Regions from separate parts of the Homo sapiens genome. Here all the other regions are linked to region 4. Evidence: fine-mapped expression QTL. A gene starts in region 4. Each other region holds a variant in brackets. All regions are shown on one strand. Distances are from middle to middle. Region 1 holds the start of CDK12 (cyclin dependent kinase 12). Region 2 overlaps IKZF3 (IKAROS family zinc finger 3). Region 3 overlaps PGAP3 (post-GPI attachment to proteins phospholipase 3). Region 4 holds the start of STARD3 (StAR related lipid transfer domain containing 3).

What was found. PIP is the estimated chance that this variant, and not a neighbour inherited with it, causes the effect.
Region 1: its variant is fine-mapped to the expression of STARD3 in whole blood (TOPMed, PIP above 0.99).
Region 2: its variant is fine-mapped to the expression of STARD3 in blood mononuclear cells (TOPMed, PIP 0.98).
Region 3: its variant is fine-mapped to the expression of STARD3 in whole blood (INTERVAL, PIP 0.98).

What each region holds. Positions count from the first base shown.
Region 1 is chr17:39,455,554-39,463,654 of GRCh38, reverse strand. It overlaps CDK12 (cyclin dependent kinase 12), which reads right to left and starts at 2,169. Exons shown (of 14, transcript NM_016507.4): 1 at 538-2,169. The coding sequence starts at 1,583. RefSeq lists enhancers at 1,388-1,517, 543-1,742, 1,908-1,967, 2,058-2,107, 1,468-2,392. The variant T/A (reference allele first, on the strand shown) is at 4,056.
Region 2 is chr17:39,827,518-39,835,618 of GRCh38, reverse strand. IKZF3 (IKAROS family zinc finger 3) reads left to right here. Exons shown (of 8, transcript NM_012481.5): 2 at 3,468-3,521; 3 at 6,131-6,232. It also overlaps the pseudogene KRT8P34. Among named protein-coding and RNA genes, the nearest start is that of IKZF3, 33 kb to the left of the region's middle. RefSeq lists an enhancer at 1-223. The variant G/T (reference allele first, on the strand shown) is at 3,773.
Region 3 is chr17:39,670,748-39,678,832 of GRCh38, reverse strand. It overlaps PGAP3 (post-GPI attachment to proteins phospholipase 3), which reads left to right. Exons shown (of 8, transcript NM_033419.5): 4 at 4,154-4,216; 5 at 4,779-4,840; 6 at 5,183-5,319; 7 at 5,578-5,782; 8 at 5,967-7,711. The coding sequence ends at 6,030. Among named protein-coding and RNA genes, the nearest start is that of PNMT, 6.3 kb to the right of the region's middle. RefSeq lists a silencer at 2,282-2,341 and enhancers at 2,500-3,045, 3,046-3,591, 556-3,962, 3,592-4,139. The variant T/C (reference allele first, on the strand shown) is at 4,186.
Region 4 is chr17:39,633,805-39,641,905 of GRCh38, reverse strand. It overlaps STARD3 (StAR related lipid transfer domain containing 3), which reads right to left and starts at 4,762. Exons shown (of 15, transcript NM_006804.4): 1 at 4,675-4,762. It overlaps PPP1R1B (protein phosphatase 1 regulatory inhibitor subunit 1B), which reads right to left. Exons shown (of 7, transcript NM_032192.4): 5 at 7,820-8,023; 6 at 6,180-6,299; 7 at 5,282-6,090. The coding sequence ends at 6,041. It overlaps LOC124903998 (a long non-coding RNA gene), which reads left to right and starts at 4,616. Exons shown (of 2, transcript XR_007065749.1): 1 at 4,616-4,915; 2 at 6,880-7,268. RefSeq lists enhancers at 4,091-4,210, 5,994-6,617 and a silencer at 4,751-4,820.

The DNA of each region.
Region 1 (8,101 bases), 180 kb after region 4:
TCAGTTAAAAGACAGGAATCTTTTGTAAATAATTAAAACAGTGCCAAGTAGGAAATGAATAAATGTACAGGTTTGGGGATTCAGTGGACAACACAAATAGGATAAACTAGGCAAGTAACTTCCATACCAATTTCTTAAGTCTTCAACCAGGTCCCATAGAGTCTAAAGCACAAATACCAATGTGATTTTTAAAAATATAAAACTAAGCAACAGAAATAGCTAGACATGCTCTGGGAACTAGTATCAACTCCATCCACTCACTAAGCAGAAGCCTTTGACGTTTCTCACTCAGAAGCTTACAACTGAAGACCCCACCACTGGAAGTACCTACCTTTGGCGGTTTGAGGCCTATGTACTCTTCACTTCTCGAATTCTGGGTTAAGGGGAGACAGATTCACACACTGGAATGACTAGCCAACAGCAAAGTGTTCTAGTCAATGATGAACACTGCGGGCTTCCAGACAATGTTAACACGCTGAATGCCAATTCCTCGCAACCCACCCTAAATGAGGAAGGACTGTTAGACAAATAGCTCACCTGGGGAGTGGACTCCGACTCAGAGACCGCTTGCTCAGGAAAGGGCTGCTGGACCGCCTTCGACCATAGGGACTGGGCGATCGCCCGCTGTAAGAGCCACTTCTTTCGTAGCTGGACGACCGTCTCCTGCTATAGGGACTGACAGATCTCTGTCGCCTACTGTAGGGGCTCGGTGACCGGGTGCTGGACTGGTAGGCCGAAGGCTCCTTGTAAGGGGGACTGACCGACTGCCTTCTCGAGGTACTTCCAGGACTTTTCTTGTAGGAGTCATAATTGCTCGAGGTATGAGATCGTGAGGGACTAAGGTCATAATCTTGGCCATAAGAAGCTCCCGAGGGGCTATCATCTTGTTTGGAGCTGTCAGACCACTTCCTGTGGGGGCTCCTGGATCTCCGTTTTGGGCTGTCCACTGTTTTGTAACTTTTGGGTGTTTCCCTTTTTCGATGACTTTTACTCCGGTCTTTGTGCCCAGACTTCAGCTCCCGTTCTTTCCTGGTCTTCTCCTTGTGGAGCTTGGATGACCTGGATTCCTTGCTGCTGCTTTTGGCTACCTGCGCCTTCCCATAGTCATCAGTCTCCTCATTCGAACGCTTTGAACTTCCCGATATCCGGTCCTTCATCGATCCCGACTTGCTGGAGACTTCTTGGCTTTTTTCTTTTTCGGTCTGTTTAGCTTTTAGTAAGTCCCGGGAACGCCTGTGCTGGTGGTGACGATGTTTGTGCAGGCGGTCGCTCCGATCTGATCCACGACGTTCGTCGTTCTCCCTTCGGTCTAGTTTGAAGGCCATGTCATCGGAGAAGGTGTCGGAATCAGAGCTGATATCATCATACTCCACCAAAGGTTTGATAACTGTGCCCAGGGATGCTGCTTCGGGGGTCACCAACCCCATGTCTTTGGAGTGTTTGGACTTATGCCGCTTGTGCTTCGATACCAAGCGGTGACGCTCTCTGCTGTTAGAGCTGCCGCCTCCCGATGACGGCTGCAAAGTTCCAGAAGCTCCTCCACTCCCGTCCTTCTTGCCCCCATGTCTCTCTGAATTGGGCATTCCCTTTCCCCTGACCTGAAGAAGGGAAAAAAGTTCCCCAGCACTCCAAAAAGCAACCCCCACCCACCCCCCCAACCCCAACTCCACGCCCACCAAAGCGCCCCGGGAAGGGGGTGGGGAGGGCAGGGACGGTAGCCCAGGCTCCTCCTCCCTCCCGACGCCTCAGCACCCTTCTACATGAGGTGGGGGGTGAAGGAGCGAGGGAAGAAATGAGAGTTCCTCGGCAGTGGAGTTGCGAGACAACGGGGAGCTGCTCAAGTCTGTTTCCTCTTCTCCCTCCGCCGAGCCAGTCCTCAGGCCCGGGCGCCGGGGAGGTCCAGGAAGTGAGAAGCCGACGGCCCGGGGCTGTGGAGCCGACTCCAGCTCTGGGGCCCTGCGAGGACTACGCGGGCCCTTCCCCTACCCGGTAGCCCGGTTCAGGACGGCTTCCTGTCGCCGGGGTGCCGCGGCCTAGGTGCCTCACGCCCCCTTTGTCCCTCGCTCCTGAGGTAGCCCCCTTTCTTGCCTCCGTTTCACCTCCACACCACACACACTCTCTCCCTCACACAGACCCAGTCACACACTAGATTAAACCGAAACGGCACTTGGGGAAGGGGGGAGGGGCAATCCCAGAAATCGTCGCGAGAGTCCAGTAGCCTCTCGCGATGTTTCGTGCTTCGCTTTCACCTCATTCCCCTGCTTATCAAACAACGCGAGATCAGGTCCCAAACTAGAAACGCGTTTCACCTGAGTCTCGCGATGAGCTCCCGGAGCTCCCCGTTTGAGCAAAGCTTTATTGAAACGGAACAAACCGAGTTTTTTTTTTTTAACCAAAACTTTATCGGTAACTGATTAAACAAACACTCCCAGGCTCCGTGACAAAATAATTTCAACATCCTTTTTAACAAATCTTTTAACTACCAGGATGACTTTTTTTTGTTTGTTTTTTGTTTTCCTTTGAGACGGAGTCTCGCTCTGTAGCCCATCCTGGAGTGTTAGTGGCGCGATCTCGGCTCACTGCAACCTCCACCTCCTGGGTTCAAGCGATTCTCCTGCCTCAGCCTCCCGAGTAGCTGGGATTACAGGCGCCCGCCACCACGCCCGGCTAACTTTTTTGTTTTTAGTAGAGACAGGGTTTCACCATGTTGGCCAGGCTGGTCTCGACCTCCTGACCTCAAGTGATCCTCCCGCCTCGGCCTCCCAAAGTGCTAGGATTACAGGCGTGAACCGCCGCGCCGGGCCATTTTTTTGTTTGTTTGAGACAAGTTCTCTCTCTTTTGCCCAGACTGGAGTGCAGTGGCACGATCTCGGCTCACTGCAGCCTCCACCTCCTGGGCTCAAGCAATCCTCCCACCTCATCCTGCCGAGTACTTGGAACTATAGAGTCGCGCCACCACGCCGTGCTAATTTGTTTCTATTATTCGTAGTGATGGGGTTTCGCCATGTTGCCCAGGCTAGTCTCGAACTCCTAGACTCAAGCAATCCGCGATCCTTGGTCTTGAACTCCTAGAATGAAGCAATCTGCCCGTCTGGTCCTCCCAAAGTGGCGGGATTACAGGCTTGAGCCACCGCGCCCGGTTGAGATTATTTTTTACAGAGCAAAAGACAAATGTCGGGACATTTCAACCCAAGTCCCTGAGTGTTTTAACAGTGCTTCCCACATATAGGGTGTGTGCTACCTGCCAAGAATTTTACATACATTATCTCTAATTTTCACAATTATCCTGCAAAACACGAGATTTTCATCCCTGTTTTATAGAAAAGGAATCCCAGCCTCAGGGAAGTTGAATAATTTGGTCCAACAAGTGCCACAGTCAACATTCAAATTCATGTCTTTCTGAGACTAAAACACAAGCTCTTCCATCCTATGGTGTTGTCTCCTTACCAATCTTTGCTTCAAATCTCAGAACCTAAAAGCTCATCCCATCTTGAGATCCTCCCATGGCCGTTATTGGATAATTTAGCCTTTCATCCTCATACAAAAGATTATAATATGAACAAGAAAAGCATAGTATTAATTAACAAGAAAATAACACTATCTTACACTGGCCCCTCATTTATTACTTTTTAAAAAACTTTCGCCTACCTTAAGTCATTCCATCTTCACAACAGTCCTCTGAAATAGGTTGTATAAGTGAGAAAACTAAGGCATGGAGAAATGAAGGGGCTTGTCCAAAACGGAGAAGTTCAGCTGGTAAATTCAGGACCAGAAAACATTCTGAATTAAGGTAGTCTCAATTCTCAAAAATCACTCTCTGTAAATGTTCTTGTTCCTTTTGCTCACAGGGCGATCCAAAACATTTTTTTTTTTTAACCTAATTTTGTGTGTGTGTGTGAAGGGTCTCGCTCTGTCGCCCAGGCTGGAGTGCAGTGGCACAATCATAACTCACTGTAGCCTTCCCCTCATGGGCTCAGGTGATCCTCCCATCTCAGCCTCCTGAGTAGCTGAGACTACAGCCACAGGCCACCAGCCCAGCTAATTTTTATTTTTAT[T/A]TTTTTGTAGAGATGGAGGGCTGGCTATGTTGCCGAGTCTGACCTCAGATGCCTGGGCTCAAGCATTCCATCCACTTTGGCCCCCAAAGTGTTAGGATTACAGGCGTGAGCCACCACGCCCGCCGTCTCTAAATGATTGAGTCCATAAATATTGGTTCTAAAATAAAAAGATCAGGCCAGGCACAGTGGCTCACTCCTGTAATCCCAGCACTTTGGGAGGCCAAGGTGGGCAGATCACAAGGTCAAGAGATGGAGACGATCCTGGCCAACATGGGGAAACCCCGTCTCTACTAAAAACACAAAAATTAGCTGGGCTTGGTGGCACACACCTGCAGTCCCAGCTACTCGTGAGGCTGAGGCAGAGGTTGAACCCTGGAGGCAGAGGTTGCAGCGAGCCGAGATCGCGCCACTGCACTCCAGCCTGGCAACAGAGCAAGACTCCGTCTCAAAATAAATAAGTAAATAATAAAAAAATTTAAAAAATAAAAAGACCAAGTTTTCCACGACAACTTTTTGATCTTCTATGGAAGTAAAATTAATGCTATCAAGAAAAAAGAAGTGGCTGGGAGCAGTGGCTCATGCCTGTAATCCCAGCACTTTGGGAGGCCAAGAGGGGAGGATCATTTGAGGTCAGGAGTAAGACCAGCCTGGCCAATGCAGTGAAACCCTGTTTCTACTAAAAATACAAAAATAGGCCGGGCGCAGTGGCTCACTCCTGTAACCCCAGCACTTTGGGAGCCGAGGCGGGCAGATCAGGAGGTCAGGAGATCGAGACCATCCTGGCTAACACGGTGAAACCCCGTCTCTACTAAAAATACAAAAAAATTAGCTGGGCGTGGTGGCGGGTGCCTGTAGTCGCAGCTACTCAGGAGGCTGAAGCAGGAGAATGGTGTGAACCCGGGAGGCAGAGATTGCAGTGAGGGGAGATCACGCTACTGGGAGGCAGAGATTGCAGTGAGGGGAGATCACGCTACTGCACTCCAGCCTGGGCAACAGAGCAAGACTCTGCCTCAAAAAAAAAAAAAATTAGAGGCCAAGCACTGTGGCTCATGCCTGTAATCCCAGCACTTTGGGAGGCCGAAGTGGGAGGACCACTTGAGGTCAGCAGTTCAAGACCAGCCTGGCCAACACAGTGAAATCCTATCTCTACTAAAAATACAAAAATTAGTCAGGCGTGGTGGTGATCGCCTGTAATCACAGATATTCAGGAGGTTGAGACAGGAGAATCGCTTGAACCCAGAACGCAGAAGTTGCAGTGAGCCAAGATCGTGCCACTGCGCTCCAGCCTGGGTGACAGAGCAAGACTCTGTTTCAAAAACAAACAAACAAACAACAAAAAAATATATATATATTTATATATACACACACACAAAAATTAGCCAGGCATGGTGGCATATGCCTGTAATTCCAGCTACTCAGGAGGCTGAGGCATGAGAATCACTAGAACCTGGGAGGCAGAGGTTGCAGTGAGCTAAGATTGCACCACTGCATTCCAACCTGGGCAACAGAGTGAGAATCCATCTAAAAAAAAAAAAAAGTGGCTAACAAAAAGAAAAAAGGGCTGAGTGTGGTGGCTGACATCTGTAAAACCAACAATTTGGAAGGCCAACATGGAAGGAATTCGTGAGCCCAGAAATTGGAGACCAGCCTGGGCAACATGTTGAGACATCTGTCTCTACAAAAAAATACAAGAAATGACAGGCCGAGCAAGGTGGCTCATGCCTGTAATCCCAGCAATTTGGGAGGCCGAGGCAGGCAAATTGCCTGAGTTCAGGAGTTTGAGACCAGCCTGGGCAACACGGTAAAACCCCATCTCTACTAAAATACAAAAGAAATTAGCCGCCGGGCTTGGTGGCTCACGCCTGTAATCCCAGCACTTTGGGAGGCTGAGGCGGGCGGATCACCTGAGGTCGGGAGTTCGAGACCAGCCCGACCAACATGGAGAAACCCCGTCTCTATTAAAAATACTAAAAAATTAGCTGGGCATGGTGGCCCATGCTTGTAATCCCAGCTACTCGGGAGGCTGAGGCAGGAGAATCGCTTGAACGCAGGAGGCGGAGGTTGCAGTGAGCCGAGATTGGGCCATCGCACTCCAGCCTGTGCAACAAAAGAGAAACTCTGTCTCAAAAAAAAAAAAAAAAATTAGCCAGGCGTAGTGGTGTGGGCCTGTATTCTCAGCTATTCGGGAGGCTGAGGCAGGAGAATTGCTTGAACCCAGGAGGCAGAGCTTGCAGTGAGCCAAGATCACGCCACTGCACTCCAGCCTGGGCGACAGAGCGAGACTCCGTCCCTACCAAAAACAAACAAACAAAAACAAGAAATTAACCAGGCATGGTGTTGCTTGCCTATAGTCCCAGCTACTATGAGGCTGAGATGGGAGGATCACTTGAGCCCAGGAGGTCAAGGCTGCAATGAGCCATGATCATGCCACTGCACTCCAGCCTGGGTAACAGAACAAGAACCTGCCTCAAAAAAGAAAAGAAAAAAGAAAAACACGGGCCAGGCATGGAGGCTCACGCCTGTAATCCCAGTACTTTGGGAGGCCGAGGCAAGCAGATCACCTGAGGTCAGGAGTTCAAGACCAGCCTGACCAACAAGAAGAAACCCCGTCTCTACTAAAAATACAAAAATTAGCCCAGCGTGGTGGCACATGCCTGTAATCTCAGCTACTAGGGAGGCTGAGGCAGGAGAATTGCTTGAACCCGGGAGGTGGAGGTTGCGGTGAGATGAGATGGTGCCATTGCACTCAGCCTGGGCAACAAGAGTGAAACTGTCTCCAAAAAAAAAAAAAAAAAAGAAAAGAAAAGAAAAACACAAGTACTGGAACTCAGTTGTGAACACTCCTTATTCACCGCTATAGGAGGATAGGACACCCTGGATATATTTTCTTGAGACAAGGTCTTGCTGTGCTGCCCAGGCTGGAGTACAGTGTTGCCAGGACAACCTGGATTTATTTTCTTGAGACAAGGTCTTGCTCTGTTGCCCAGGCTGGAGTACAGTGGTATGACCATGACACACTGCAGTCTTTTTTTTTTTTTTTTTGAGATGAAGTCTCGCTCTTGTCCCCCAGGCTGGAGTGCAATGGCACGATCTCGGCTCAGTGCAAGCTCCACCTCCTGGGTTCAAGTGATTCTCCTGCCTCAGCCTCCTGAGTAGCTGGGATTACAGGCGCCTGCCACCATGCCCGGCTCATTTTTGTATTTTTAGTAGAGATGGGGTTTCGCCATGTGGCTAGGCTGGTCTCGAACTCCTGACCTCAGGTGATCCACCCACCTTGGCCTCCCAAAGGGCTGGGATTACAGGTGTGAACCACTGTGTCCGGCTGACACACTGCCATCTTCACTTCCTGAGCTCAAGCAATCCTCCAGCCTCAGCCTCTCCTGGCTGGGATTACAGGTGTAAGCCACAGAGCCTGGCTAATTTTTTTTTTATTTTTTGTAAAGACGGGGTCTTGCTATGTTGCCCAGGCTGCTCTTGAAGTCCTCGGCTCAAGGGATCCTCCCACCTGGACTCCCAAGATGCTCGGAATACAGGCATGGGCCACTGTGTCTGGCCTTGAATGTTTTACATGATGACAGATGGCATGAGACTTCCTGGGCTGATTAAATGTAGTGACCAGTCAGCCATAGTAAGTGTTGGCATGGGTTTGTTGTCATGAGTTCAATAAAATTCACCCTGATTTTTCTGTCTTTTAAATGAGATCAGGTTTTTATTTTTAATTTCTTTTTTTGAGATGGAGTCTTGCTCCGTTGCCAGGCTGGAGTGCGGTGGCACTATCTTGGCTCACTGCAACCTCTGCCTCTCTGATTCAAGCGATCCTCCTGCCTCAGCCTTCTTAGTAGCTGGGATTACAGGCACACGCCACCATGCCTGGCTAATTTTTGTATGTTTAGTAGAGACGGGGTTTCACCATGTTGATCAGGCTGGTCTTGAACTCCTGACCTCATGATCCACCCGCCTTGGCCTCCCAAAGGGCTGGGATTACAGGTGTGAGCCACCATGCCTGGCCTTTTTTTTGGGATGGAGTCTCCCTCTGTTGCCTAGGC
Region 2 (8,101 bases), 190 kb before region 4:
GTCGAGGCCCAGTATGAGAAGATCGCCAACCGCAGCCAGGCCAAGGCTGACAGCATGCACCAGATCAAGTATGAGGAGCTGCAGACCCTGCCTGGGAAGCACAGGATGACCTGCGTTGTACAAAGACGGAGATCTCCAAGATAAACTGGAACATCAGCCGGCTCCAGTCTGAGACAGAGGGCCTCAAAGGCCAGAGGGCTTCCCTGGAGGCCGCCATTGTGTATGTGTGGGGAGCGGTCCATTAAGGATGCCAATGCCAGGGGGTCCAAGCTGGAGGCCGCCCTACAGTGGGCCAAGCAGGACGTGGCGCGTCAGCTGCTCAAGTACCAGGAGCTGATGACCATCAAGCTGGCCCTGGACATTGAGATCGCCACCTACAGGAAGTTGCTGGAGGGCAAGGAGAGCCAGCTGAAGTCTGGGATGCAGAGCATGAGTATCCATATGAAGACCACCAGGGGCTACTCAGGTGGGCTGAGCTCAGCCTACAGGGGCCTTACAAGCCCTGGCCTCAGCTATGGCTTGGGATCCAGCTTTGGCTCTGGCGGGGGCTCCAGCTCCTTTGGCTGTGCCTGCTTCTCTAGGGCTGTGGTTGTGAAGAAGATCAAGACCACGATGGGAAGCTGGTGTCCCAGTCCTCTGATGTCCTGCCCAGGTGAAAGGCCATAGCAGCCCCTCCCAGCCTACCCCCTCCCATGGCTTCTCCAGAGCCTGTGGAGGAGGCCACTGTGCAGGGGAGTATAGGGAACAGGAGACCCACCTGAGGCTCAGCCCTAACCCTCAGCCCACCCATGGGGAGTTTACTGCCTGGGATACCCCCCTTGCCCATGCCTCCAGCTACAAAACAATTACATCATTTTTTTTTCCTCCAAAATAAAGCCTCAGCCAGATCTGCAAAGCAAAACAAAACAAACAAAGAAAACCAACAAAAACCAGAACATACATATGTCTCAACTACACATGGCACATTCACCAAGAACACCAGTCTTAATACTTTTAAAAGGACTACAGTCACACAGACTGTGTTCTCTGACTGTAGTGCAATGGAATTTGACTTCAATAACAAGTTAGCTAAAGAATTCCCGAATTCCCCCAAATATCTGGAAATTAAACACTTATAAATAACCAGTGGATCACAGAAGACTCGAGGGAAATTAGAACTGAATTATAATCAAAACATCAGCATTTATGAGATGCAGCTAAAGCAATGCTTACAGGAAAACTTATAGCTTTAAATGTTTACAATTAGAAAAGAAGAAAGGAATAAAGTCAGTCACTAAAATTTCACCTTAAGAGGGCAGAAGCAGAGTAAGTTAAGCCCAAAGTAGAGGGAAGAAGCACTTTTGAACAAGTTCTAGTTTCACTGTGTTGAAACTAGATATATGCCTCCTACCCTATAACCCAGTAATTCCACACCTAGGTATTGACTCAAGAGACATGAAAGCATATGACCACAGAAATACTTGTGCAAGGATGATCATGCTCCAGTCTAATCATGAGAAAAACAAACACATCCCAGTTGAGGGACATTCTACAAAATACCTGACCAGTACTCAAAACTGTCAAGATCATCAAAACAAGGAAAGTCTGAGAAACTGTCCCAACCAAGAGGAGCCTAAGGAGACAAGATGACTAAATGTAATGTGGGATCCTGGAAGGGATCCTGCAACAGAAAAAGGACATTAGATGAAAACTAAGGAAATCTGAATACTTAGATAGTAATAATGTATGAATATATATTCATTAATTATAACTGATGTACCATACTAATATAAGATGTTAATAATAGGGGAAATTGGGTGTGGGGTATATGGGAACTCTCTGTGCTATCTTTGCAATTTTTCCATAAATTTAAAACTACTCTAAAATTTAAAAGTTTATTATTTTAAAAAGGAATATCATAGTAGTTTGACTTATAAATAGCCCAAACTGGAAACAGTCTAGGTGTCCATCAATAGGAGAATGGATAAACAAACTGGGATATTCATATGGAATACTACTTAGCAATAAAAAAGAATGAACTACTGATAAACACCACAGAATGGATGTATCTCAAAACATTATGTTGAGTGAAAGAAGCCTCGGGCAAAATAATTTATACCATATGTCTGTGTGATTCTGTTTTTATGAAGTTCTAAAATAGGCTAAACTAATCTATGGTGGAAAAAGTCAAAACAGTAGTTGTCTCTGGAGTATGTGGGTGGGAATTGACTAGGAAGAGATGTGAGGGAGCTTTTCTGGGATGATGGTAATGTTCTGTATCTTGATAGGGGTTTGCATTACATGAGGATATGCATTTTTAAAAACTCATTGAATGGTACACTTAAGATCCATGCATATCACTGTATGTAAAATTTACTTTTTAAAATCTTGTAAACAGATATTGAATTTTAGTTAATAATAATCATGCTGAAATGTTAGGACTGAGGTATACTGATATCTGCAACTTATTTTGCAATGCGTTGAAAAAGCTGGATCGATGAATGGATTGAGAGATGAATGGGTGGAAACATATGTGAGAAAGCAAAAATAGCAAAATGTTAATTGTAGAATCCAGAGGGTGAGTAATGGATGTTCAACTGTGCAGTTCTTTTTTTAAAATTTTTTATTGATACATAATATTTTACATATTTATGGGGCACATGTGATATTTTGTTACATGCATAGAATATATAATAATCAAGTCAGGGAATTTGGAATGTTTATCACCTTGAGTATTTATCATTTCTATGTGTTGGAAACAATTCAAGTCCTCTCTTCTAGCTATTTTGAAATATATAATACGTCGTTGTTAACTATAGTCACCCTACTCTGCTGTCAAACATTAGAGCTTATGCCTTCTATGTAACTATATGTTTTACCCATTAACTAATCTCTCTTCATCCCCCATTCCCACCCACACACCCTGTCTATCATTCTACTTTCCACCTCCATGAGATCAACGTGTTTACTGTCATATATGAATGAGAACATGTGATATTTGTCTTTCTGTGCCTGACTTATTTCACTTAACATAGTGACTTCCAGCTCCATCCATATTGCTGCAAATGACATGATTTTATTCTTTTTAATTGCTGAATAGTATTTCATTATATATATGTACATATATATGTACATATATATATATATACCACTTTGAACTCTTTTTTTCTATGTGTTCATAATAAAATATTGGGGAAGAATAAAGAATATATGAAATTATTTCTAATGGAACCCACTTTTTGCATATTGTTCTTGGTGTAAGTAGATCTCTGGCAGAAAGTTCTTAGAGTAACATTGCTGCATCAATATTTTTTTTTCATGCTCCTTGAAAGGCTTTTAGGGAGAATATAGAGAAAGAGTAATCTTGCTCTGAAAGAGGAATTCTGCTGTTAAGTTTTCCGAAATGGTATCCCTTATTAAATTTGGAATGCTCAAACCTGTAGAAATGTACCCTAAGTAGCTAATATTTATAACCTCTTTCTTTTCAGATATACAAACAAATGCGGAACTGAAAAGCACTCAGGAGCAGTCTGTGCCCGCAGGTAACATCAGGTCTTTCCTCTCTGGAAATATACCTTTACTAAAAAAAATACCAAAGAGAGAGGAATGTGCTTATTCTGGTTGCAGTAAAAATGCTATGGAAATGTGTGTGTGTTTTTTTTTAAATATGGTTGTCTGTTGCTGATGAAAAAATAACTCATCCATTTAGATCATGTAAGTTCTTTAGCATCTTAGGGCCAAACATACACTACCTAATGTTGATCACTGTTTGTTTGTTTGTTTGTTTGTTTTT[G/T]ATTTTTCAGCTCATTGCTCTGAAGACAGTTTTTGTTGAATAATATAGTAGCTTGTATTTGAATGACTTGCGATTTTTACTGTAGAACAGTGGTCTGCAAACTTTTTTGTAAAGGGCCAGATAGTAAATATTTAGACTTTGCAGGCCACATATGGTCTCTGTCACGTATTATTTTTTGTATTTCTTACAACCCTTAAAAAATGTAAAAACCATTCCTACCTCTTGGGCCCACACAGAAGCAGGCTATGGTCAGACTTGTACCTCAGGCCATAGTTTACTGATCCCTGCTCTAGAATAAATTATAAACATTTACAATAATTTATTTCCTGAAAATAACTTCTGTGTCCTCCATTGATTAACTCACTGTGTGAATCAAAGCTTACATTATATTACAAAATTTAATTTATCACTGAAATGCCTTTTTGTGTTACTGTAACTTGTAATCACATCTTTCTTTCTTTCTTTTTTTTTTGAGACGGAATTTCGCTCTTGTTGCCCAGGCTGAAGTACGATGGTGTGATCTCGGCTCACCACAACCTTAGCCTCCCGGGTTCAAGCCATTCTCCTGCCTCAGCCTCCTGAGTAGCTGAGATTACAGGCATGCACCACCATGCCTGGTGTATTTTTAGTAGAGGCGGGGTTTCACCACGTTGGTCAGGCTGGTCTCGAACTCCCAACCTCAGGTGATCCGCCCGCCTCGGCCTCCCAAAGTGCTGGGATTACAGGCATGAGCCACCGCACCCGGCCAATCACATCTTTTAACTGAACCTAAATCTCATATTAATTGTTTAGGTGTCCACTATATTTTAGTCATTTCAGGCTTGAGAAAAGTGAACCATTGTTTAGAATGGTATCTTAGAGTTCACAGAGTATACATCATAATATGCAGAAATTAGAAACTTCAGATATTCATAAATCAAACACTGAGTCCATGGTGACCACATTTTCAGGGGCTCTTAGTGATGGGTTTTGTGAAACGTGTTTCTCTTTCGCTCCCGCGTGTGTTTGGTCATGGCTCAGCTGAAAGGAGTGCCACTGCAGAGCTTCTAGTTACCTCCCTACTTCAGCCCAGCCTCAGTGCCACAGGATTCAGTGTCTTTGACTATTTTTTATATTAATGGGAACTCAGCAAATATTTTATTGAAGATTGGGAAGGAGTTAGATAAAAAGAGGGTAACTTTTCAGTTCATTTCTTCTGCTATCATCTTTTTGTTAAGCTACTATGCCTATATGTGAAAATAATTCCAGTTGCATTGTTCCTTTTTCTTCTAGTATTATCAATATTTATTATACATTTCTCTTAAACTTATTTTGTAACAAGTTTGCTGTTTGTTTAAGCATGTCTTTATTATGTCTGCTCCCTTTCACTTATGAACTTTAATAACACTTTGTATTTCCTTTATTTAATCCTTTGTCTGAGCCTACCATGTGTTAGAGTTGTGGGCTTCTCTTATCTATATCTCAAAGTATGAGCTCCTTGAAGACATAATGACTTATTCATATCTGTAGCCTTGTCAACATTCAGTAAATGTTCAAACAAATAAAGAAACTTGGGGTCCAATATGTTTTCCACAGAATCACATTTATAATGTGAACAGAAGGGAAAAACAGAATTTGGCATACAGAAAGCTTACAGATCTTCCTCCTAGGAAAGCATCTTTCCCAAATTAGGTTATGCCAGTGTTTGCACGCTTAGTATTTCTGGTCACTACTTTGTCATAAATAGCAATGGCATCCTACTGAATATCGTGAGATATACCAATGGAGAGATAGTTTTTCTCCAGAAGGAACATGAGTGCCCTTTAACTCAGATGAAAGAAATATTCAAGAAAGTTGTGTGTATTCAGAGGGTACATGAACCCTGGGCATATTTCTTTTCTCTTTTTTTTTTGTTTGAGACGAAGTCTCACTCTGTCACCCAGGCTGGAGTGCAGTGGTGCTATCTTGGCTCACTGCAACCTCCACCTCCCGAGTTCAAGTGATTCTCCTGCCTCAGCCTCCCGAGTAGCTGGGATTACAGGCATGCACCGCCATGCCCAACTAATTTTTGTATTTTTAGTAGAGATGGGGTTTCACCATGTTGGCCAGGCTGGTCTCGAACTCCTGACCTCAGGTGATCTGCCCATCTCGGCCTCCCAAAGTGCTGGGATTACAGGCGTGAGCCACTGCGAACCCTGGGCTTATTTCTAAACCTCAAGAGTTTTCATGTATACATCCCTTTTGGGTATGTGTGAAGGGGTACTATCTGTCACTAAAGGATTGTGTGAAGCTGAAAGTTAAATGGGGGTCTACTTAATATATATTTATAAAAATCCTTTAACGTTGAACCACATACTTAAAATTCCTTTTATCTTTTAGAAAGTGCAGCGGTTTTGAATGACTACAGTTTAACCAAATCTCATGAAATGGAAAATGTGGACAGTGGAGAAGGCCCAGCCAATGAAGATGAAGACATAGGAGGTGAGCCGTAGTGTGCAGACTAAACACTGATGCCTGTAGATATTGCTTAGGCTTAGTGTAGAGAAGAAATCAGCTCTCCAAGGAAAACTTGCAATTGTAGGTTTAGTTAGGAGTGATTCTGTTTTGTTAATTTCACAAATATTTGCATTTCATAGTTGTAGGTTATCAGCAAATTTTGAGAATTTAAGGTGCTTATCCAGTGTTCCAATTATATTAACTTCACTTAAAACATGATGTTTGACTATTTTCCATTATAAAAGTAATACATGTTTATTGTAGAAAGTTTGTCTGGGGTGTTTTCTGACACCAACAAACCAATTTTCTGGTTTTCCGACAATGACTTGGTGTCCAACAATTCAATTCAATTATTATTATTATTTTTTTTTGAGACGGAGTTTCACTTTGTCGCCCAGGCCAGAGTGCAGTGGCGCAATCTCGGCTCACTGCAACCTCCGCCTCCCATGTTTTAGTGATTCTCCTGCCTCAGTCTCCCAAATAGCCGAGATTACAGGCGCCCACCACCATGCCCGGCTAATTTTTGTATTTTTTTTAATAGAGACGGAGTTTTACCATGTTGGCCAGGCTGGCCAGGAACTCCTGACCTCAAGTGATTGCCAAACTCAGCCTTCCAAAGTCCTGGGATTACAGGCATGAACCACCATACCCAGCCCACTTCAATTCAATTCTGATTGTAATTCCTGATGTTTGCGTAGACCGCACAGGTTACAGGCTCAGTCTCACAGTACTGCACAGTACTCTCCCTACTTTAGACAACAGTCTCAAGTACCAGGTCCCCAGGTTACCTGCACTTTTGTCTGACTTAGCTACAAAATCGGGGACTCCCCTCCACATGTTTAATAATTTGCTAGGATGACTCACAGGACTTGTTACATAACTCATTTATTCATTCCTTTACTCTCAGCTACTCTTCCTCCTTCTTACTGTTTATGCCCAAACTTTCCCACCTTTGGGAGGAATATTAGGTTTGACCACTGCACTGGTCTAGATCGTAGGCAGCAATACTAGTCTAGCAAGCACCTCTCCCTCAGTCAACTCCCATACATACAGGATAGGGTTACACAGGTACGGAACTAGTGGGCTATTTCTACCACTAGGCAATACATCTGCATTCAATGTTAACCCCAATTTTGCCAGATGGGGTAAAGGCACAGCCTGCCTCATCAGGCCCTTAGGAGTTCTGACATAAAGGTTTAAAGCTACGGTTACACTTTCTTGCTTTAGAAATCATCTCTGTTTCTGGCACTTGTAATTACAGTGCTGGTATTGCAACCACTGCATCTGGTAGGAAAGAGAAAGCTGATGTGACAATGTAGGGAAGGAAAAAAAGAATAGTCATCACACCAATATCCTCCTCTTTGGCAAGAATTGTATAGTCATATCAGCATCCTCCCCCACCTCCTCTTCCCTAATCCACCAGAAAAACAGAGGAATCTACCTAGTGGGAACACTCCCTTAGCTCATTTCAATGTGACCTCACACTTGTGCAAATGCATAAACCAACCCTTCACACCTATACCTTACCCTATTTTAGATATCTATCAAACTACTACTCTGAGGAGGATAGCTCTTTGCCCATTGTTTGACATTATGGGCTGTAAGTAGAGTGCTCCTTAGTCTAAAGAAATGTGGCTCAGCCATTCAAATTGGTGCAATATCTTCTGTTCTGGTTCTTTCGTGGTACTGACCATTTGTGTATACAACCAGGTAAGCAAAGCCCCTTCCAGAGTCTGTGTTTATCCCCGTCAAAAACAATTTATAGGTTGGGTGCAGTGGCTCACACCTGTAATCCCAGCACTTTGAGAGGCTGAAGCAGGAGGATCTCTTGAGCCCAGGAATTTGGGCCCAGCC
Region 3 (8,085 bases), 37 kb before region 4:
AAGAAACAAAGCCTCAGAACCCACACTCCTGTGGATGGCCTAGTTTGGCTTTCCCAGTTGCTCTTGGGCTTCCCAGTTGCCCTGTGAGTTTCTGCAGGAGGGAGGGATCCTGAGCTGTATGGAGGGTGCGGCAGTGGACTTTGACCTGGGCCTTCTGGGGCACTGAGGCTCCTGATTTCTGTTGGGGTGAGGATAGGAAGGCAAGGTCCCTCACCCGCTCCGGGCTAAGTCTTGGGGGAAGGGTACCTCAGCTTTGCCTCTGGGAAATGAGGAGACCCCGCCCTCCAGCAGGACTCATGATAACGCTGGCACAAGAAGGCAGCCCTTGCCTTGCCATTTAGGCCTGGGCTTGGGCTGGGGAGCAGCCAGGCGGCGGGTGGGGAGCCTACCAAAGCTCCGCATACCATGTCTCTTTGACTTCACGGAGTAGGGGCCCCTGCTGTGTGCCAAAGCCAGAAGGCCAAACCAATTCCCCAGGCCTTCATCCAGTCAGGAAAGGTCCTCAGGTGTAGAGAGGAGGGTGAAGTGGTGGGAAGCCCAAACCATCTCTGTAGAGTGGTTTGTGTAGGTGGGGACTGATTCTTCTCTTCCTCTGTTAAGCAAACTACAAGAAGAGGTAGGTTGCAGCTGTAGTAGAATGATGGTTAGACTTCAGGAAGGACTTCCCATGGTCAGACAAGAGCTAGTGGAACAGGCAATGGCAGGAAATCAAGGGATCCTCTGGGATCTTGGAAAAAGCCCTCCTTCTCCCATCCGCATCCACCTCTGTCTCCCTTCTCTCAGGAGTGAGCTGGGGCTGGCCTGCCCTGCCTGAGGCAGGGGGTGAGACACTGTGGCCTCCAGAGGAGCCCAGGATGGCAGCAGGCATCATATTTAACATTCTGCCTCCCCCACTTCTGAGACACTGAGCTATTTTAAGCCCCACTTGTCCCCACCGCCATGGTGTCAATGACAGCCCCGAGCACTGGGGCTTAGCGCCGGGTCGAATTCCTGACAGATCTGGCTCACTTGGCATCCAACCAGTTTCACGGCTGTGATATTTTTGTCTCGATTTTCTTATTTCCAACAGACTGAAACAGCCTCTTGCTCTCCCTCCACCCAGTCTCCTATTCCACCCCCACTGGCACCCTGCCCCTGGCCACCCCCTCTCCTCAGTGTTTACGCAAAGCTCTGGGTGCCTGCTGGGCAGCCTGTCGCCCTCCTGGCCAGTTCCCCTCCCTGCCCCCCTTCACTTGAGCGTGGCAAGGAGTCCGAGAGTAGCCGTGCCTTGGCATCTTGGAACTCTCCTTCCTTCCAGAGCCCATCTTTCCCCTTTGCTTGCTCTTGATGACAAACTCTGAGTGAGGAGAAATGGATCTGTTCGGTTCACATTGATGGGAACATGGCTCCAGAGGAAGGAGGAGGGGCTCTTCCTATAGCTGAGGTGTCTCCGTTCTGGAATGGAGAGACCCTGAGGCCCCATAGTTTGACCTCAAACTTTGTGACCCTTGCGGAAAGGGAAGTTGAGGGGCAGGTGAACGGGCGTGGTGAGAGTCAGTCTACTGGACCTGATGAAGGAAACTGACATTGATGGGCACCTACTATGGACCAGGCAGCAAAACCAGCAGCCATTCAGAGGAGTTCCTTGGTGCCAGGCATTCCGCAGACCTCGTCCTCATGGCCTCCTGTGCAGTGAGCATCATTATGAACCTGTTTTGTAGGTGAGGCAGTGGAGGCTCACACATACTGGGTTATGTGTCCAAGGTCACACAGCTGCGTAGGGGCTGAGGCAGGACTTGAATGCAGACTCTGTCTCATTGTGAAGACTGGACACTCTTCCCCCAGCCTGGAGCTGTGGAGGTGGGCCTAGGCAGCTAGGAGACCACCCCTTATCTGCCTAAACATCCTTGGCCTGCAGGGAGAGTGGGAGGCAGACATCCTCTTAGGCCTCAGTTCTATGGGAAGCTGACGGGGTTCTGTGCTGGTCAGGCAAGTGGAGAGAACACTCATGTTTCAGCCTGTCCTGGGCTCTGTGCTGTACGCTGTATTTGTATTGCTCATTAAACCCTTATCAACTATGATTATTCCCATTTTGCAGATGAGAAAACTGAGGCACAGCAAGGCTAAATAACTTGCCCAAGGACACACAGGAAATGCAGAGCCAGGAACTGAACCCTGGCAGTCTGGCTGTAGGGCTTGCATTCTTAATGATACCACTACCTCCCAAATCTGAGGAAAGGGTGAGAAGAGGAGCACCCCCAGAGTGGGATGCTCCCCAGGGGGGAGGGGCTTTTCAGGGGTGCAGAGGCCAGGCTTCAGGTGGGTCTCTGTGAGTGGAAGGCACCCAGGGAGGCGGTTGGAGAGGGGACCCAGCAGCCCCACCCATCCTGTGGCCCTACGCATATGTTTGCCCGCACACACACCCCCTGCTTTCGGTGTTCTGAGCCACTTAGCTCAGTCCTGCAGTCCTCTTCTCACCTCCCCCTTCCTGCTGTGGGTGACAAGGAGGCCTGGCTGGCTGCCAGTCCCTGCCGCCTTCCTCTTCTCCTTCCCACATTGGCTCCAGGGCCACTCTCCTCCCTAAGGATGTCCCTGTTCCTGGCCTGCCAGGGAGAACTGGTCCATGTGATTGCCTGGGTCCCGTCTCCAGCCCAAGCCTGCTCCTCTCCCCATGCTGACTCTAAGCTTTTCAGACTGTGGGAGCAGTGTCTGAGAAGCCACCAGGTTCAGTCCTGTTGTGCAGCCTCCATGCCTGTCTCTGGGGAGGGGGCTGCAGCAGGGCAGAGCCTTGAGTCTGGTGGAAGGGACAGAGTGGCCATCCTCAAAGGAGGAAGCAGCCTGCCCTAGACCACACCACCTAACGCCAGGCTGGAAAGGAACTGAAGTTTCACTTGAGCCATGATTTGTCCCGGGGGAAGCTTGGGCTGAGAAGGGCAGGGCCCTTTGACCAGGTCAAGAGGAGCAGAAGCAGCAAGGCTCAGCCCAGAGCCCAGGCCAGACAGGGGCACTAGGCAGCCTTGCGCCTTCCAGAGCTTGGCACCCCGAGAACCTGACTGGCTGTGCAGCAGTTCTGCCCCGCCTGTACCCCTTCTCCTCCCATTCTCTCCTGAGCTCCCCAGACCTGCATTTGGAATGCATCTTACTGTCTGACCTGCCTGCTACAGTGCCAGACAGAGTGTAGCTTCTTGCCCCCTCCCTCTGTCCCCTGCCTGGCCAGTTTTCCTGGTACATTGGAGCCAACTGAGCAGTTCCTGGCCTTTCCTCATCTCCGCCAGGCCTGTCCCACCCTAGCGCATCCCTCCCCACCTCCAGGCCATTCCCGGCCTGGCCTGCTGTTCCTTTGGTTGTCACGATTTCCCAGCCCTTCCCTTCAGCCCACCCTGCTTTCAGCAGTTTGGGCCTTTGCTGTGGACACAGCAGTCCCTGAAGAAAGTGCCAGCACCAACGCCCACAAGCTCTTAGGCTCATTCGCTAGATAACTTTTGTGCTCTCTCCACGCAGCTAATTTCCAGGAAGAAGGCCTCAAACATTCCCCTGGGCCCTGGCCCACCACAGCCCCTCCAGTCCTGCCCTCTACTCCTCCCAGGCTCGGGAGCAGCCACTGGTCTGGCGGGTTGGGCAGGCCCAGCCAGGAGGAAGCTGGGCTTGGTTCACCCTCCTCCTGGGAGCCTGTGCCCCAGTGGGATCTGCTTGATCTCCCTCCCCTGCTGCTTGGAACACACCCCAAGCTGGCTCGAGCCCCTCCACCCCACCCACCTCATTCCCGCCCCCAGAGGCTGAGGTCACTGGCTCCCCTGGGCCCGGGTGGGGTGGTGCTGTCAACACCTGCCGGTTGGAGGAGGAGGCAAGGCCCCTGGGGGCTGTTGTCTTAGCAATTGAGTAACTAGGGAGCTTGGCTATACCGGAACTGGTTCCCAGGCCAGGCCGGAACCTGTGGAGGCTGCAGCCCCCCGTGGCCTTGGGGGTTTGGGGTGGCAGGAAGTCCACCCCAGGGACCCTGGCTGGGTGGGGGTAGAGGGACATAGGTTTGTTCAGAGGGCTCCAGGGGCAGGAAAAGCACATTTCTTGTCCTGCAGAGCCCCTTCCCAAAGGTGAAATGGATGTGAGCAAATGGGGGTCCCTGCCTTGAGGTCAGGGTGGGGGGCAGCATGCTCACCAGCCCCTCCCTCCTTAGGTGTCCCTCAATGCATGGTTCTGGTCCACAGT[T/C]TTCCACACCAGGGACACTGACCTCACAGAGGTGAGCATTCCTCCAGCTCCCCCTCCTGCACAGGGTGGTCCCAGAGGAGCCCAGAAGTGGGCAGAGGGGCTCTAGAGGGTCATGCCAACTCCCTCTGAGGAGCACTGGGAGGAGTATGGGGTGGGCATCCTAAACCTGTTGGTGCCCTTGATCCTCAGTGAGCCTCATCAGGTGGGGATGAGTATTCGCTCTTCTTGCCTGATGAGGCAGCTGAGCCTTCGACAGGGGGACCACATGCTTAGGGGCACCCAGCCAGTGAAGGGTTGCCACAGGACGTGACCCCATGGCTGTCAGACTCCACACTGTGCTCTGAATTCTGTGCAGCGTGGTCATGTCCTGGAGCCTCAGCAGGAACCCTCCACCAGCGTCCCTAAAGCCTTGTTCCTGGGCACATTTTTAAAAACTTGTATGGTGATGTGAACACAAGACTCAGTCAGAGTGAAACAGTGATAGGCAGGCCCAGGACCCCGGCCCCTCTCTGCCACTCCTCCATGCCCCCATCCCCGCGGGTCCTCTCCGTGAAGCCTCATGCTGGTCCCTCACCACCCTTCCCTGTCCTCAGAAAATGGACTACTTCTGTGCCTCCACTGTCATCCTACACTCAATCTACCTGTGCTGCGTCAGGTGAGCCTGCCTGGGTGGCTGCAGGGGCAAAATCGAACCCTGGGGGCAGAAAGGGGTCACCCAGCCTTCCCCTGGGGGCCTTCTTCACTAGTCTCCCAACACCTACGCCCCCCAACCCCCAACACATCAGCTGTCCTGGGTGAGGACTCTGGGGTAGGACTGGGGGCCCTGGCTCCTGACAAGGAGCTGTAGCACTTGCTGCCCAGCTGTGGCCTGTTTGGTGGGGAGAGGGGTAGTGACTTCAGGGGCCATGCACCAATGTTGGGGGGAGGAGATGCTTCAGGGAATGCTGCTCTGGGGATGGGCCACCTGCCCTCTGAGCAACCCTGGACGGTGGGGCAGGACCGTGGGGCTGCAGCACCCAGCTGTGGTCAGTGCCTTCCGGGCTCTCCTGCTGCTCATGCTGACCGTGCACGTCTCCTACCTGAGCCTCATCCGCTTCGACTATGGCTACAACCTGGTGGCCAACGTGGCTATTGGTGAGGCCCTGGGGGGCTTGGGCCATCTGCAGAAGTGCTAGCTTGGGGTGCGAGTGGGAGGTTGGTGCCATTCCTGGAGAAGGAGGTTCTAGAGAGACTCTTGGGGTAGAGGAATGGAGAAGAATTTGAGGTGGGAGAGAGAGGAGGCTGGGAGGAGAGTCCGAGGATGATCCTGGGGTCAGAGAGCATGGAGTTGGGGGTGGCCTTGGGGAGAAGGAGCCGAAGGAATGAGTCTCTCCTGCCCCCACTGGCACCCAGGCCTGGTCAACGTGGTGTGGTGGCTGGCCTGGTGCCTGTGGAACCAGCGGCGGCTGCCTCACGTGCGCAAGTGCGTGGTGGTGGTCTTGCTGCTGCAGGGGCTGTCCCTGCTCGAGCTGCTTGACTTCCCACCGCTCTTCTGGGTCCTGGATGCCCATGCCATCTGGCACATCAGCACCATCCCTGTCCACGTCCTCTTTTTCAGGTGGGTGCTGCCCCCTGCCTGGTGCTCACCTTCTTTGGACCCTTCCTTGCCCACTCCTTAGGGGAGATTGGGGGCTCTGTGTGCCCATCCGCCCCCTCCCACCTTGCCTGCATGCACCCCACCCTTGTCTCCATGCGAGCTGTCAGAGCTGTGTGCCTCAATGGGCTACTCCTTTGGCCCACAGCTTTCTGGAAGATGACAGCCTGTACCTGCTGAAGGAATCAGAGGACAAGTTCAAGCTGGACTGAAGACCTTGGAGCGAGTCTGCCCCAGTGGGGATCCTGCCCCCGCCCTGCTGGCCTCCCTTCTCCCCTCAACCCTTGAGATGATTTTCTCTTTTCAACTTCTTGAACTTGGACATGAAGGATGTGGGCCCAGAATCATGTGGCCAGCCCACCCCCTGTTGGCCCTCACCAGCCTTGGAGTCTGTTCTAGGGAAGGCCTCCCAGCATCTGGGACTCGAGAGTGGGCAGCCCCTCTACCTCCTGGAGCTGAACTGGGGTGGAACTGAGTGTGCTCTTAGCTCTACCGGGAGGACAGCTGCCTGTTTCCTCCCCATCAGCCTCCTCCCCACATCCCCAGCTGCCTGGCTGGGTCCTGAAGCCCTCTGTCTACCTGGGAGACCAGGGACCACAGGCCTTAGGGATACAGGGGGTCCCCTTCTGTTACCACCCCCCACCCTCCTCCAGGACACCACTAGGTGGTGCTGGATGCTTGTTCTTTGGCCAGCCAAGGTTCACGGCGATTCTCCCCATGGGATCTTGAGGGACCAAGCTGCTGGGATTGGGAAGGAGTTTCACCCTGACCATTGCCCTAGCCAGGTTCCCAGGAGGCCTCACCATACTCCCTTTCAGGGCCAGGGCTCCAGCAAGCCCAGGGCAAGGATCCTGTGCTGCTGTCTGGTTGAGAGCCTGCCACCGTGTGTCGGGAGTGTGGGCCAGGCTGAGTGCATAGGTGACAGGGCCGTGAGCATGGGCCTGGGTGTGTGTGAGCTCAGGCCTAGGTGCGCAGTGTGGAGACGGGTGTTGTCGGGGAAGAGGTGTGGCTTCAAAGTGTGTGTGTGCAGGGGGTGGGTGTGTTAGCGTGGGTTAGGGGAACGTGTGTGCGCGTGCTGGTGGGCATGTGAGATGAGTGACTGCCGGTGAATGTGTCCACAGTTGAGAGGTTGGAGCAGGATGAGGGAATCCTGTCACCATCAATAATCACTTGTGGAGCGCCAGCTCTGCCCAAGGCGCCACCTGGGCGGACAGCCAGGAGCTCTCCATGGCCAGGCTGCCTGTGTGCATGTTCCCTGTCTGGTGCCCCTTTGCCCGCCTCCTGCAAACCTCACAGGGTCCCCACACAACAGTGCCCTCCAGAAGCAGCCCCTCGGAGGCAGAGGAAGGAAAATGGGGATGGCTGGGGCTCTCTCCATCCTCCTTTTCTCCTTGCCTTCGCATGGCTGGCCTTCCCCTCCAAAACCTCCATTCCCCTGCTGCCAGCCCCTTTGCCATAGCCTGATTTTGGGGAGGAGGAAGGGGCGATTTGAGGGAGAAGGGGAGAAAGCTTATGGCTGGGTCTGGTTTCTTCCCTTCCCAGAGGGTCTTACTGTTCCAGGGTGGCCCCAGGGCAGGCAGGGGCCACACTATGCCTGCGCCCTGGTAAAGGTGACCCCTGCCATTTACCAGCAGCCCTGGCATGTTCCTGCCCCACAGGAATAGAATGGAGGGAGCTCCAGAAACTTTCCATCCCAAAGGCAGTCTCCGTGGTTGAAGCAGACTGGATTTTTGCTCTGCCCCTGACCCCTTGTCCCTCTTTGAGGGAGGGGAGCTATGCTAGGACTCCAACCTCAGGGACTCGGGTGGCCTGCGCTAGCTTCTTTTGATACTGAAAACTTTTAAGGTGGGAGGGTGGCAAGGGATGTGCTTAATAAATCAATTCCAAGCCTCACCTGCCCTTGTTCAGCTCATTTGTGTGAATAGGGTGGGCTGGAGGGCAGGAGAAGACAGTTGTGGCGGCAGGGGCAGGTCCCAGAGCTGGCTGGAGGCAGTAAACAGAGGTGAGGTCTCTGCCTGGGCACGTGGCATGGGGAATGGCAGGCCCCAGAGGCAGAGCTGGGCAGAACTCAAGTCCAGTTGTGAGAGGGAGCTGGAGCCAGTTCTTTCCCTTTCACTTCCCTCGGCCATTGTGCTTCAATCATAACACCCCCACCTCCCCACCACCTTGCAGATTCTACTTCCATCTCCTCATGATCCCCACTCTCCCTCGTTCTGGTCTGAAGCAGTCTGCACTGTTTGTGACTTCACCTCTCTGAGCTTCACCTG
Region 4 (8,101 bases):
AGTCACAGTGCCTGGCCATGATACATGTCTAGTAAGTTAGCCTGTGGATCCATAATGTCCACCCTGGAACAGGGAAAAGGGTGTGGGTTTGGGGTTGGACACCAGTCCTGGAGGCAAAAACCTAAGGCCATTCCTTATTAGATTGTGTGCCCTTGACCAAATCACTGGGTTTCTCTGAACTTCAGTCTCCTTTTCTGTAAAATGGGGAGAATATAGTACCTACTTCACAGAGCTTGAAGGGATTAGAAACAACACATGCACAGTGTCTGTGCTTAATTAATAGCAGCTATTACTACTATTACCCATGGGGACAGTGTTAGAGGCAGGACCCTGGCCAGGCAGGTCCAGCATAGCACTTTGCCCAAACTGAGAGTCCCAGCAGTACTGCAGAATGGAAGGGTAGACCCTGGCTTCAGGGGGCTGACCCAGAATGACACTTTTTTTTTTTTTAAGAGACAGGTCTCACTATGTTGCCAGACTGGAGTGCAGTGGCTGTTCACAGGCGCGATCATAGGACACTGTGGTCTCAAACTCCTGGGCTCAAGCAATCCTGCCTCAGCCTCCCAAGTAACTCTGGGTCAGCATTTCCCTTATCACAGCTAGATGTTTCAAGGCCATCTGTCCTAAGCCCTTGAGGTCCAAGTCACAGCCACAGTGCCTGGCCACGGTACATGTCTAGTAAGTTAGCTAGTCTGTGGATCCGTAATGTCCACCCTGGAACAGGAGAAAGGGTGTGGGTTTGGGGTTGGACATCAATCCTGGAGTCAAAAACTTGGGAGTAGGTTCCCAAGTAGTTGAGCCTACAGGTGTGCACCACTGCGCCTGGCTAGGATGGCACATTCAGGGTTACTGGCCCATGCCATCAGCCTCGGGATGGTTGGCTGACTGGCCCTACTATAGCCCTCCACAGAGGGTTTGGGAAATCCCCTGGAGAAGTGGGAGTGTAGGGAGAGGAGGACACAGCTACAGTGACAAATAAGACCCAAAGCCAAAGCCTGGCTCTGTTTCTCCTTTCCTTCTGAGGAAGCGGAAGGGGAAGAGTTAAGCCAAATAGAAACAAGACTCACCACCACACACTTCTCCCCCCAGCCGGGGAGGCTCTGCGGGTGCAGTGTACAGGAAGACCCTAACACACTGAGATCTACTTGCCCTCCCTTCCCCCTTGTGCCAGGCCCTGTGAATCATCAGGGATGCCCCCAGTTCTGTGATTCCATGACCCCTGACCCACTCAGGGCCAGTGAATCAGGCCCCACCTGCCCTCTTCGTGCTGCTATGTAAACCAGTGAGGTCAAGTTCCCAAGGTTAGTCTGGAAACGGCTAGTCATCTTCCAGGAGAGATCTCAGCCCTCTCAAGAAAAGGCCCCCATAGGGCAAGGGACAAGGGGTGGGGGGGTTGGGGGGATGGAAGGGAGCCGGTTTCAGCACAGGATCCTCCAGGCACCAACCCTGCCTGGACAAAGCCAGGATTAGCCTCTCCTCAGCCAGAAAAAGGGACACTTTTCTTTTGTCCCACTGATGTGGCACCTGCCCCCTTGGAGGCTGGGACCCCAAGGCAGTTTCTGGGAGACATGCAGACCTGGAGTCAGGAGACAGCTCTTTAAATCCCTGCTGAGTGATCTTGACCTTACCTCCCCTGAACCTCAGCTTCCTCATCTGTAAAGTGGAGCCAACAGGCTCTCGCATTCAGTGGAACAGGCACAAGCTGCCAGATGTGCCGGATTTTTTATCTCCCCCGCACCGCTCTCCCTTAACAAGTCTAGCTGTGTGAGAGCTCAACTTAATGCAACATGCGGGTTCCAAGGGCCTACAGTATGCTGGACACAGTGCAAGTCCTGGGGCCACAGGACCCTGTTCTGGTCCATCAGGGACTCTGGGTCTGGTGAGGAAGACTGGCAGATAAATAATACCATGCTGTGATCAGCGCTTTCAGGGAGGAATGAACAAAGGACCGTGGGCTCCCAGAGAAGGGATCATCTGACCCAGGCTGGAATGAGTGAAGTCAGAAAAGCCACAGGGAGGAGGGGCCATCTGACCCTGGCCTTGAAGAGTCAGCATCTATCAGCTGGAGGCAAGGAGGGTGGGCATTACAGGGAGGCAAAAGAGCTCCAAAGAAGGCCCAGCCCAAAGGCATGCACAATGGCCCTACCCAGGGGGCCTGGTCCCAAACACCAGGTACTAGGCCTCCGGAGCATAGTTGCCCCCAGGCATGGTCCCTGCTGGCTCCCAAGTCAAGGGATGCTTCCTCATGGCCAATACAGGAAAGGAATTGCCAGCGTCAGCAAAGGACGCTGCCTCTGTCTTCCTCAGCTCCGTCTCCCCTGTTCCCCCACCCAGCCACCATCTACTGGAGCTCTGTTCAGAGGACCCAGCTTTCTGATCTCTGAGCCCACTCCAGCCTCTGCCTCCCTCTGATAAAATCCTCCCATCGCTTTATAGGCCCCATTAACTGTCAGCTCCTCAGAAGCCGCCCCTGGTCTTTTTCTCCCTCTAGTTCCCAGATCTATACATTTCTCTAGATTTAATGCTTGCCATGTAACACACACACACTTCCAGACTGGTTTTCCTGAGCAGACCAGGTCTGAGCCTTTTTCACTCTTGAATCTTCACTCAATAAATCCAGACCCTGCCCCCAGTGTCCTCCACTCCAGCATTTTATTTATTGGCAAAGAGCCAGGCTCTATCCAATGACTAGTAAGCCACTTCAACCATCCTCAGGCAACTTATGAAATTAAAAATCATAACTGGTGAACTATGTTGTCCTTACATAATAGTAATAACTTTTTATTTATTTATTTTAGAAACAGGATCTCACTCTGTCCCTCACACTAGAGTGCAGTGGCACAACCATATCTCGTTGTAACTTCAAATTCCTGGGCTCAAAGGATCCTCCCACACGTACCACCATGCTCAGCTAGTTTTTTAAATTTTTGTAGCGATGGGGTCTCACTATGTTGCCCAAGCTAGTTGCAAACCCCTGGCCTCAAGCGATCATCCTGCCTTGCCTCCCAAAGTACTAGGATTAATGCATGAGCCACTGCACCCAGGCAACTCACTTTAATTTATTGAGCATTCTTGTGCCTAGCACTGGTTTAAGACCTAAACATACAATATTCCATTCAATCCTCACAACTCTATGAAGTAGAGACATTCCTACCTCCATTTTACAAGTGAGGAAATTGAGGCACTGACTTCATCAAGGTTACCAAACAGGTCAGAACCCAGGCAGTCTGATCCAGGAGTCTGTATTCTCAGCTACTATGCTATTATGGACAGGGTGCTACAGGACACAGAAGGGCAATTAACCTTGGGGGTTAGGCGGAGGCAGCGCTGCCTGCGCTGAAAAACATGTAGAAGGTAGCCCAGCAGACAAGAGAAGGAGGAGGTTTCCAAGCAGCGGGGGCTGGTGTGTGCAAAGTCATGAAGATACGAACAGCAAGGGTAGGCATGGCGCATGCTGCAGTGCCGTATTATTGGACCTTAGGGTGCACACAGGAGACTGCTAGGTCAGATCACAGAGAGCTGTGTAAATTGTGCTAGGGGTTCAGCACATAGGCAATAGAAAGCCAGAAAAAGGTTATCAGCAAGGAACTGGCACCGTAAGACTTGTGTTCTAAAAGGATCACAAGAGTTACAGTTTGGAGACTGGGTTGCAAGCTGCCAGGGCTGGACTGTTGGGAATTGACAATACATCAACAGCGTGGTAACAGAAGAGATGGAGCTGGCCCAGGTTTGAAGGATGTTCAGGAAGTTGGCAGTACTAGGTCACTTTTAAGATGTGGGACTTGAAAGAGAGGAGAAAGTGTAAGGAAATTACCAGACTTCCGGCTGGGTTGGGGTAGAGGAAGAATTAATCTGCAAGGAAAAGACCAGTTCAAGTTTGGACCCAGTGAGCTCCATGTGAAGCAGAGCTGTCCCAATGGCCGCTGGATGGGCAAGCGTGGAGCTCCAGGGAAGGGCTGCGCTGAAGATGTGGATCTGGGTATTTAGTTGGTGTAAAGCTGAAGCCGTGGGGGAAAATAAGACCACTGAGATTCAGTGTACAGAGCGAGGGGTTGGGCGACAGAGGAAAACGTGAAGCGGGACTTTGACCGACTGTCAGAGCGGTACGAAGAAAACCAGGAGACATTGACTAACCCAAAAATGCGGGGTGAGGGAACGTGTCATTAGAAATGAGTGTCAATGGTACTATGCACCTCTAAGAACTCAAGACTTCAAAGGGCCCTTTTAATACCAATTAGGAAGTTATTCACGGCCGTTTCGAAAGGAAGTTGGGGAGACACGGGATGACACTGAGACGCAGAGCTACCGGAATGCGTAGATGTTTTCCTCTCACCCCAGATTCCGACCCCTCCCCATACCTGCCCCTGCTCATAACACCCAGACACCTCACCCTCTCCTCTCCCCTCAGTTAAGACGGAGGCTTTGGAAGGAGATCCCGAACGTCCTCCCCGGGCTCCCCAGGATAGGCGGGGTCGCCAAGAGTCATTGCTGGAGACCCCAACCCGCGCGGGGCGGCGCGAGGCCAGACAGAGGAAGGGGGCGGAACCTGAGACGCAGCGGGTGTGGGAAGGGTCGGACGGAACCCAGCACGGACAGCGGGCGGCGAAGCGGGTTCGACCGGCGGAAGACGGCCCTCGCACGCCACCCGCTCCCAGCGACCGCTCCGGGACCCACCTGCTCCATGTCAGCCACGGCCCCGGCTCTTCCCGCCCCAACCGCAGTCCGGCTCCGCGGCCTCAGTAGCGCCTCAGAGCGGAAGAAGATCTTCCGGCAGCGCCACTTCCGCCGCTGAGTCCGCCCCCGAGAGCGAAGCGGGACTTGCGTTCGCCTGCGGCCCCGCCCCTTCGCCCCGCCTCCAGCCCCGGCCCTGCGCAGAAGCGGACTCAAAGGCCGGAGTCTAAGGGCCTACCTAAGGGTAGGGGAGTGGGAAGAAGACCAGGGCCGTCGTTATTAGGCCACACAGGCCTGGCACTGAGGGAAAAAGGGGAATTTCCCGAGGGGAGTCCTGTGGGGATGGGGAAATCTTTGGAGGAATCCAGTTATTCGAGAAGGACTTCCCCACCCCACCTGCCTCCTTCAGCCATCCCAAGCAGCAGCTAGAACTTCTGTAGTTCTTCCTCTGAGTGCCCCGAGCCTGCTGTCTGCCAGAAAGACTCCTAGACTAGAGGATTGGACAGTAGGGTCAAAACCCTAACCCTTGGTTGACCACCGGCCTTCCCTATCAGGACGCCCCATTACCTCCCTTTTCCTCCTGCTTCCCCTGAAAGAGGAGTCTCAGCAGTTATTTACAAAGATTTATTACAGCACGGGAGGGGTTCAGGCCTGGAGTCAGGGAAGAAGGGGAAAGGGGCAGAGCAGCTGGGGGACAAGGAAAACCTGGCGCCCCCCGCTGTGTGCCCCACCGGGGACATAAACTAGGCGGCATTCCTGGCATCAAAGCACAAAACGCAACAAAGAGGTCTCTGCCAGTCCATCTTCCAGGCACCCAGGAGGAGCAAGGGTGATTAAGGGAAGATTCCCAAAATGTTGAGGCTATGGAGAAAAACGCCTTAGTCCTGGACCCTGGTAGAAGCCGGTGAGAGAAGTGGTGACTTGGAATCCTCCATAGGAAAGTGGGTAGAAAAGGATCTAAGGGTACCTCAAGGTTCTCAGGACCTCCTTTCCCCAGATCTTAGGGTCCTGCCCTGTGGGTCTCCTGTGTCCAGGGGAGAGGATCTGGGGAGTAGAATTGTGAAGGGCAAATCCCTGTTCCCGGTTTTCTGGATTTTCCAATGTGGGCTGTCTCACATCCCACCTCCCGCTGGGTGAATGGAGGAATGACTGGCAGGGGTGGGCATCAGGCAGCAAGTGCCCAGGTTCTCTGGGTATCAGCCAAAGGTGGGCAAACAAGCAAACACAGACCAGCCTTAGTCTTCTAGAAGTCAGAAGCCGCAGCCCTAGCAGGCGAGGGGAAGAGCACAAAACAGGGTGAGGATAGAGTGGGTTTCTGGGGAACAGCGATGTCCCCTCCACTTCCTCCTGGGAGATGCAGGCTGGGTGCCTATGTGCCAGGCTCAGAGGGGGAAGGGCGCTGAGGTTCCTCCCCAGGCTCTGAAAGGCAAGCAGAGAGGGACTCAGGGCCTGGCCCCACCCACCAAGATCCCAGCCCCTCCTCCCCATTTCACACTCCCAAGCCTTACCACTTAGTGCTGGGTCTTCCACTTGGTCCTCAGAGCCTCCATCTCTCTCGGACTCATCCAGAGGGGGTGGGCGCTCCCAGGGCCCTTCCAGACCCTGGCCACAGGTTGTCTTTTGCCCAGCTGGGGATGGGAAAGAAGAGATAAGAACACAGGCTCTGCGTATCCATCCGGCTGTCCTGGAGTGTGAGCTAAGTGTCTGATGGCTGAGGTTAAGCTTTCCAGGGGCATCATGGAAGCATGGAGAGAGAACTGGGCTAGAACAGCTCTCCCAGCAACTAGCCATATGGCTTACGTAAGTCAGTTAGTACCTTTCTGAAGGAAATAGAAAGGGGGAAATTGTGTAGATTACCTTAAACAAGATGTAATAGTGAATACCCTGCCCAGCCCAGCGCCAGCACCCAGGAGCCACTAGGAGTCGTGGTGGTTTATATTGCTCCATCATAGGACTATCATTTGACCCGGTGCCCTTCTGCATTTTTTGTTTGTTTGTTTTTTTTTGTTGTTTTGTTTTGGTTTTTTGTTTTTGTTTTTGAGATGGAGTCTCACTCTGTTGCCCAGGCTGGAGTGCAGTGGTGCGATCTCAGCTCACTGCAACTTCCACCTCCCAGGTTCAGGGGATTCTTCTGCCTCAGCCTCCCAAGCAGCTGGGATTACAGGTGTGTGCCACTGTGCCTGGCTAATTTTTGTATTTTTATTACAGATGGGGTTTCACCATGTTGGCTGGACTGGTCTTGAACTCCAGACCTCAAGTGATCCGCTAGCCTTGGCATCCCAAAGTGCTGGAATTACAGGCATGAGCCACCGCACCCAGCCACCTGCTGCTTTTCCTGAGGGAACAGTCTCCTCTCACCCCTCTTCCACTGTTTTGGAGGGGTCTCAGTGAGGACTGATTCAGGTCTTCCAGCTGTCTCTTGCCCACAAAGGGACTGAAGCCCAGCAACAGCTTTTGCCCCCATGGCCAATCTCTTCACTGCCAGATATGCAGGCAGGAGGCCCAAGGCCTTTTGTTTGTGTGGAAGAGCTGACAGCTTCTAGTAGGGGTGGTTGACTCTTCAGTATTCCCATAAATAATGAGACTAAAAAGGTTAATGGGCCGGGCTGGTTCTTGAATTTTAAATTCTACATCTAAACACTAGAGGGCACCCTCCCACTCCATCCTAGGAAGGAAAAAGAGGAGAAACAGACAACAGTCCTGGAGAGGGCAAGTAAATGAGGCAGCCCTCTGCACCCCAGCAGAGACCACATCCTAGGTTCAAAAATGTAGGTGAAATGCAGGTGACAGGGGTGTTGGACTCTCCTGGTCCTCCATCCCTGAATGTCCTCACGCCCCCTTACTGCCATAGGTGGGAAGTCCTCTTTTGGCTCTAGCCTCAAACCCCAAACGGCCTTGGCCTTAATTCTCAGGGAAGAGAGGAATTATTAGGGAAAACCTGATTGGGAGAGGGACTGAGCCAAGGATGGAGGAAACCCATGTCTCAGGTAGGGCTGAGTTCGGGGCACCCCATGGAGCGAGAAGACAGGGAGGCCCCTGTGGTGTCACTACAGTTTGCGTGTATGAGACACTGAACTAGAAGGGGACGTCCTCGTATACTCAAGGAGGACCCACAGCTAATCCACATGTCACAGGCCCCTCAGCTTACCAGACTGCCTGATGACCTTCAGGACTTCAGCCTGGCTGTCCTCTTCTTCTTCCTCTTCTTCATCATCCTCCTCTTCCTCCTCATCTTCCTCTCTTGGATAACCCAGCTCCCGAAGCTCCCCCAGCTCATCCTCCTCCTCTGAGGCCTGGTTCTCATTCAAATTGCTGATAGACTGCAGGTGAGACTCAGCAATGCGCTGCACAGCTGGCACAGAGGAGACCGAGGAAAGCAAGGGTCAGCTAGACACAGCCCATGGATCTGGAGATAGCCTGTGGCCTAGCC